Linked DNA regions of Homo sapiens. The protein of the gene in region 1 purifies or fractionates together with the protein of each later gene. This does not show direct contact. Each region holds a gene or a part of one and is shown in the gene's direction. Other genes may lie near its edges. The genes, in order: SCRT2 and S100A13.

The links.
Region 2: the proteins of SCRT2 (region 1) and S100A13 purify together in Homo sapiens (affinity purification with mass spectrometry; one large-scale study listed by BioGRID and IntAct). This does not show direct contact.

The regions. Positions count from the first base shown.
Region 1 is NC_000020.11:665,621-669,440, reverse strand, and holds part of SCRT2 (transcriptional repressor scratch 2), read left to right. Parts: intron 1-3,820. UniProt on the Homo sapiens protein: May be involved in transcriptional regulation.
Region 2 is NC_000001.11:153,618,217-153,621,640, reverse strand, and holds the end of S100A13 (protein S100-A13), read left to right. Parts: intron 1-2,602; coding exon 2,603-2,746; 3' UTR 2,747-2,842; downstream 2,843-3,424. UniProt on the Homo sapiens protein: Plays a role in the export of proteins that lack a signal peptide and are secreted by an alternative pathway. Binds two calcium ions per subunit. Binds one copper ion. Binding of one copper ion does not interfere with calcium binding.

The DNA.
Region 1 (3,820 bases):
TCCTGGACTGAAAAAAAGGAAAGAAAAGGAGGCCAACCCAGCTCTGATGAGAACTTGTTTTGTGACCTGAGGTGGGTCAAGGCCTTTGTCTGGGCTTCAGCTTCTGCAGAACAAGGGCATGGAGGGAAGTGACCTTAGACATGAGCTAATGTGCACAAAGCATTTAGCAGGATGCCTTGCACCAAGTAAGTGCTCAGTAAGTGATAGGCATTACTGTTATTAAGTATGATTTACAAATACTTACAAGAGGCTGAAGCATTTTCCACAACAGCTTCTCCATGCCCCCACCACCCCGTGCCCCCACCCACCCCACCACAGGCTAACTAGGGAGTGTTTGAGGAAACGCACCACCCCTTCCCCTACCAATTGAAGATCTCTTCCCCAGCAAGTCTCCATGCCCTCTCTGGTGTTTTGGAAAAAACACAGGCCTTGGAGGGTTTCAAACCTGCCGCCTCCCTCTCAGTGACCTTGGGCAAATCCTCTCCCCTCTCTGGGCCTCTGGGCACAGGGCAATGTCTGGCTCACAGGGAGGCTGGTGCTAGTTGGAAGCACCAGCAGTAGCAGTAGCAGTATTTGTTACACATCCCCCTCCATCCCCGCAGGGGGTCAGGCAGCTAAATGAGACAGTGTCTGCAGAGGGCCCAGCACCTTAGTTCTCATAAATTTCCCTTTCACCACTCCTTTGAGTACCGATTTTTAAAAAGACAGATTCTGGACCTTCAGTCTAAAATATCAAGACTCTTGGGCAGGGAAAACCAAAGTCATTTCCAGGTGACATGTGCACATCTCCAAAGTATTTCTGGGCCCTCCCCATATCCCTACATGACAGGGGTGCCTCTGGTCCACATTCCTCAAATGGAGGATTTGAGCCCAGATAAGTTATGCGACTTACCCAAGGTCACATGGCTACGGCCTGAATTCAAGGGCTAGGATGAGAGATCTCACCTGAGATTCTCTTTTCTCTGAATCCCAGCTCATCCCTATCTCTGTGGGAACCCAAACAAGAGTCCTGTCTCACCCTGTCAGTTGCAGGATAGGTATCTCAGCCTTCTATAGTCACTCTTAGGGCAGAGGAAGGTACCTGTCTGGGTTCCATGCATTAGGTTAAAGTATGGCTTTTAGTGTCCTAAAGGAGTCTCCAGGGTTGAGGCTCAGAGAGGTGAGGTGGTTTGCTCAAGGTCACACAGCAGCCTAAGACACCCATGTGTATCTCCTACTCTCTGGCAGATTAGAAGGATATATCACCAGGAAACACAGGAATACTACCAGTAACAATAATAACAGCTCAAGAGGGCAGCTATTATGTGTCAGGCATTGTCCTAAGCACTTTACATGCATTCATTTATTCAGCCTTATTATGAACTCCCTTATACAGGTGTGGCAGAAAGATGTTAAGTAACTTGCCCAAGGTTGCCTAGGGAGATGTCTGTGAATCTGAGGAAAACGGGGTGGAATTGGAGGAGCTGGGAGTGGAGGGGACAAAGAGCATCATGGAGGGACTGATTCAGCCATGATGCAGAAAGGGTCTTTAGACCATTCCAGTCCATCTTTGTCATGTATAGATTCCGCCCAGAAAGGTTAAGCAACCTGGCCACAGTCACAAAGCAAGTTAGAACCACCTCCTCCTAACATGACCACACAAACTCTCACAGGATGCTCTCAACCCATGCCAAAATCCACTGACTGGGTGTCTGGTCTGGGCTCACAATTCCTATCCTGAAGACACTTCTGCAGCCCTCCCTAGGCAAATGAGCAGCCTTTGTTGAAGGCACCCCTATTTCTTCATAAAGAGCCCCTTGCAACAGGAGGAAAGTCAACAGCGCTGAGGGCCACCAGCAGAGGGCGCCATGGGCAGAGCACCTCATGGAGAACGCTCTGGTTCACTGATGGAGCTCCTACTATGCACCAGATATTTTCCCATCAGAACGTGAAATAGAAATTACACATCCCGGGTGAGGAAACAGAGGCCCAGAGAGGAGCAGCACGATGTGTTGGGGCAGATGCCAAGAAAGCTGCAGCACAGAAACCCATCTGGGGAGATTGTTATTATTGTTCATAATAACAGCCAACATGCGTGGTGGATTTAAAATGTGCCAGCCACTGAGCTGGAATCCTGGCTCTAACTTATCAGCTGCACAATCTTAGGCTTGTTACTTAGCTTCCTTGTGCCTTGGTTTCCTCTTCTATAAAAGGGTACCTACCACCTTGTGTGTCATGGGGGTAGAATGCTTTCATGTGTGGAAAGCCCTTGTAAGAGTGCCTGACACAGGAGTGCTCTGAGAGTGCTGGTTATCATTTGTTTATATACTGTTTACTGGCAGACCCCTTACTGAAACGGTAGAGTCACACAGAGGCCAAATCGTTTGGCCAAGGTCACACTGCTGGGAATGGTAGAGCCAAAACAATCCAGGCCGTCTGGCACCAAAGTTTTACTCTTATCCAATATGTCATCCTTTAATAATAGAACTCAAAGCACTGGTTACGTGATCAGTCACCCCTCCAGATAAATCCCATTTTAAAAAAAAAGGACCTGAAGCACAACCCACCCAAAGGCACTCAGCTGGAATCTGTGTTGGAGAACCAAACCACCCTTCCCCTTCCATGGCCCCAGACACATGAGATGCAGACCTGCCCTGAGACCAGGTGAACAGGACTGTCTATACCAGGTCCTGCTAGGCTGGGGAGTGAGGCTGGCCTCGCAAATCATCATCACTCATTCCACAAATACTTATTAAGTGCCCACTAGCTAGGGCCCTGGGAATGGGAGGTGAACAGCTCAGCCACAGCCCCCTCCTGGAGGACCTCCCAGTATGTGGGAAACCAAGGGGGCAGTGGATTCCAATCCTTGCTCCACCCCTGGAGCAAGTGCCATCACCACACTGTCCCTCAGTTTCCTTATCTGTGATGAGAGTAGTTTTGTGATGATTCAGTGAGATGATGGGAGCGAAGCACTTAGCACAGAGCCTGGTGCACACAGTAAGTGCTCAGTGAATATTAGCTATTATTATCATCACCAGGAATTACAACGTGAGGAAATACAGAAGGAGAAGGAGGGGGGTCTGGGAGTGCCTGACGGGTATTTAACTCAGTCTGAAACAACACTCCTGAATGTTCTGGGACCTGAGTACCAGGCCTGGTTCCCGGAGTGGGAAGCAGGGGGACCTCCAGACCACAGGCAGATGGGACGGGAGACATAGGGTGCGGAGAGGCTGGGCATCTCCTCTCCCCAGATTAAAAAATTGCCACTATCACTATCCCCCTTTACATCCAACCACAGAGCCCCCCGCTTCCGAGTCATCCACTTCCATAATCCACAATGACTTCTGTGTGCAGAGGGCCCTGTGCTGGCTGCTGAAGGGACAGAGGTAAAAATAAGGGCACACCCTTGCCTTCAGGGGCACACAGACTTCACCCTGTGTCCATCCCAAACTCCAGATGAGAGGCAAAGGCCTGGAGGCTGAATCAGCCAGGCTGTGTGGGAAACGAAAGCTGACCAGAGTACCCAGCTAAAAGTCTGAACATCTTGAACCCTGTTTCCCCTTACAAAACCCTCCTCCACCTGCTCACTTCAGTGAAGGAGGCTAGGGGAGGAGGGAAGGAGGAGTGGTTACAGGTCTCAGGGGTCACCAGGAGAAGGTCAAATCCCACTCCCCAGGTGGGAAACCTCCCAAACGGACCTAACCTTCATTGTTCTGTGGAATCACAGAACAATGGAATCACTTGCCCATCAAGTGCCAGGATGAAAAGTTTGTCTGCCAGAAACTCTCCAGGGAGCCCAGCCCCCAGGGTCTCAGGGAAGGTGCTAGGACCAGCCTAGGCC
Region 2 (3,424 bases), on another chromosome or scaffold:
CTTCCACAGTGTGAGAGACCCGAGCGGGTTGCCCGAGATGGGGTTTCATCACGTTGGCCAGGCTGGTCTTGAACGCCTGACCTCGAGTTATCCACCCGCCTTGGCCTCCCAAAGTTCTGGGATTACAGGCATGAGCCACCATGCCCAGCCAGTAACATTTTATAATGTTAAAAAGAATCCTGTAGGCCGGGCGTGGTGGCTCATGCCTGTAATCCCAGACCTTTTGGAGGCTGAGGTGGGTGGATCACCTGAGGTCAGGAGTTTGAGACTAGCCTGGCAAACATGGTGAAACCCCATCTCTACTAAAAATAGAAAAATTAGCAAGGCGTGGTGGTGGGTGCCTATAATCCCAGCTCCTCGGGAGGCTGAGGCAGGAGAATTGCTTGAACCCAGAAGGTGGGGGTTGCAGTGAGCTGAGATCATACTACTGCACGCCAGCCTGGGCGACAGAGTAAGACTCCATCTCAAAAAAAAAAAAAAATCCTGTAGATAGTTTAATTGGGATCATATAAAAGATATATTTTAGGGAAAATCAACATTTTTAGCTGATTGAGCCTTTCTCTTTAAGAAAAATATATGTTTATTCCATTTTCTATTTATTCAAGGTTTTTTTTAATATCCCTGTGGTATAATATGAAATATATAGTTGTCATTTTGTATCCATGGGAATTGTTCCCAGAACCCCCTTGGATGCCAAAATCCTTGGATGCTCAATTACCTTTTTTTGTCCTTTTCTTGTAGAGATGGGTGTCTCACAATGTTGCCCTGGCTGGTCTTGAACTCCTGGGCTCAAGCGATCCTCTCACCTTGGCCTCCCCAAAGTGCTGAGATTGCAGGTGTGAGCCACCATGCCTGGCCTCAAATCCCTTATATAAAATCAGATAGTACTTGCATATAACCTATGCACATCCTCCTGTATACTTTAAATTACAAGTAACTCTAGGTTACTTGTAATACATAATGCAGTGCCTACTCATCACTTCATTCACATGGATTCAACTTAGTACTTAGCATGGGGCAAAATTTAAGTTTTGCTTTTTGGAACTTTGTGGATTTTTTTCTTCAAATATTTTTGGTTCTAGGTTGGTTGAATCCAGGGCTGTGGAACCCACTGATACTGGTATGGTATTTGGTATTTGGCCTTTGTTTTGTTTCTGTCACAGCTCTTTTTTTTTTTTTTTTTAGATAGTCTCACTCTGTCACCCAGGCTGGAGGGCAGTGGCTTGATCTCGGCTCACTACAGCCTCTGCCTCCCACACTCAAGCGATTCTTCTGATTCAGCCTCCCAAGTAGTTGGGACTACGGGTGTGCACTATCACACCGAGCTAATTTTTGTATTTTTTTTTCTTTTTTTGAGACAGAGTCCCACTCTGTAGCCCAGACTGGAGTGCAATGGCGCGATCTCTGCTCACCACAACCTCCGCCTCCCAGGTTCAAGCAATTCTCCTGTCTCAGCCTACCGAGTAGCTGGGATTACAGGCTCCCACCACCATATCTGGCTAATTTTTGTATTTTTAGTAGAGGCAGGGTTTCACCATGTTGGCCAGGCTGGTCTCAAACTCCTGACCTCAAGTGATCCGCCCACCTCAGCCTCCCAAAGCGTTGAGATTACAGGCGTGAGCCACCGCACCCTTCCTGCTTCTTCTTTCTTAATACTTATTTATTTCTCTTTACTGATTGAATGCACCCCCAATATAATGTTACAGTAGCCATCCTTGCCTTCCACTGGCAGTGCTTATAGTATTTTATAATTAAACGTGGTTGTAACTTAAAAAAAAGTCTTTTTTAGTTCTTCTGTGAATCAGCTTTGTTCCCTTTAGAGATTCAGTGAGTCTTCTCTGTCTGCATCCAAATGTTGGTTCAAACCTTGAGCCTCACACCCTGCCTGAGGCACCCTTCTCTGGTTTGATGTTGAACTATTGTTCAACAGTCAACTTTTTGGTTGTGCTTGTTTATCTGGCAACAGGTCCTTCGATCAGGACATCCAGTTTACTGTTGCCATTGATTTCACAGGCCTATGAGAGATACCCTGTCAAGGGCCCCTAAAAACCCAGATACTCCATGCCCTTGCCATTCCCCTGATCTAGTGACCCAGCTGGATAAATGAAAAGACACAAGGGTTGTGCAAATGAGCAGCTAAGTACTGGGAGCTTCTCCAGCTTTCTGAGAAAGAGGAGGGTGGCCCCAGAAGGCTCTGACTGGGTCCAACCCTGCAGCATCTCCCTGAGATGCTGGCATTCCTTGGGCCGATCCCACAGCAGCTGCAGTGGTGTGCTGGTGAGAGAAGATTGTGTGGATTTCTTTCCAGCTTTGTATTCAGCGACAACCTGTTTGTGGTTTGTAAGCAGCCATCGTGGAAGTATTTACACAACGGCAAGCACTAGGACTCAGGCCCCCCCACCTTTCTCTGCTGGTGCTCCTTGGAGAGGCACCCCGTGGCGGTGCAGTTTTGGGGCTGCAGCCTCCTTCTTTAGAGAAGGGGCAGGTGCCACTGCTCTCTGAGGGAAGGGCCTTGAGAGAATAGCAGCTGACAGTTCTTCCCTCCCTACTTTCTCAAGAACCCCAGTTTCTAACTCTACCCTTCCCTTTGGTGTCTCCTCAGGATGTGGGCTCTCTTGATGAGAAGATGAAGAGCTTGGATGTGAATCAGGACTCGGAGCTCAAGTTCAATGAGTACTGGAGATTGATTGGGGAGCTGGCCAAGGAAATCAGGAAGAAGAAAGACCTGAAGATCAGGAAGAAGTAAAGCCGCCTGGCTGAGATGGGGTGGGCAGGGCAGAGCTGATCAGGGCCGAGCAGAACCGCACTCTTCCCAAATAAAGCTTCCTCCTTGAAACACAAATGTTTCTTACTTACACCCCATCCTGATTTCTTTTCTTGAGACCAGAGAGTGGGAAAGCTCTCTCTTGACCTGAGGATGGATCTGAAAATTATGAGCCCCTTGAGGACAGGGAATGTTATTCATCTTTGAATTCCGCAGCATCTAGCACCAGGTCTTGTACAGAGCAGGTGCCCAATAAATGGTTGAATGAATATATGAAAAGTAGAGGCAGAGGGCTGGGCACAGTGGCTCACGCCTGTAATCCTAGCACTTTGGGAGGCTGAGGTGGGTGGATCACTTGAGGTCAGGAGTTCGAGACCAGCTTGGCCAACATGGCTAAACCTCATCTCTATTAAAAATACAAAAATTAGCTGGGCTGGTGCCTGTAATCCCAGCTACTCAGGAGGCTGAGGCAGGAGAATCACTTGAACCCAGGAGGAGGAGTTTGCAGTGAGCCGAGATCGCACCATTGCACTCCAGCCTGGGCGATAGGAGCAAAACTCCATCTCAAAAACAAAAAACAAAACAAAACAAAAAGAAAAAAGAAAAGTAGGGGCAGAGATGTGGGGCAGGAGAGGTGACTCGGGCTCAGCTGCATGGTCC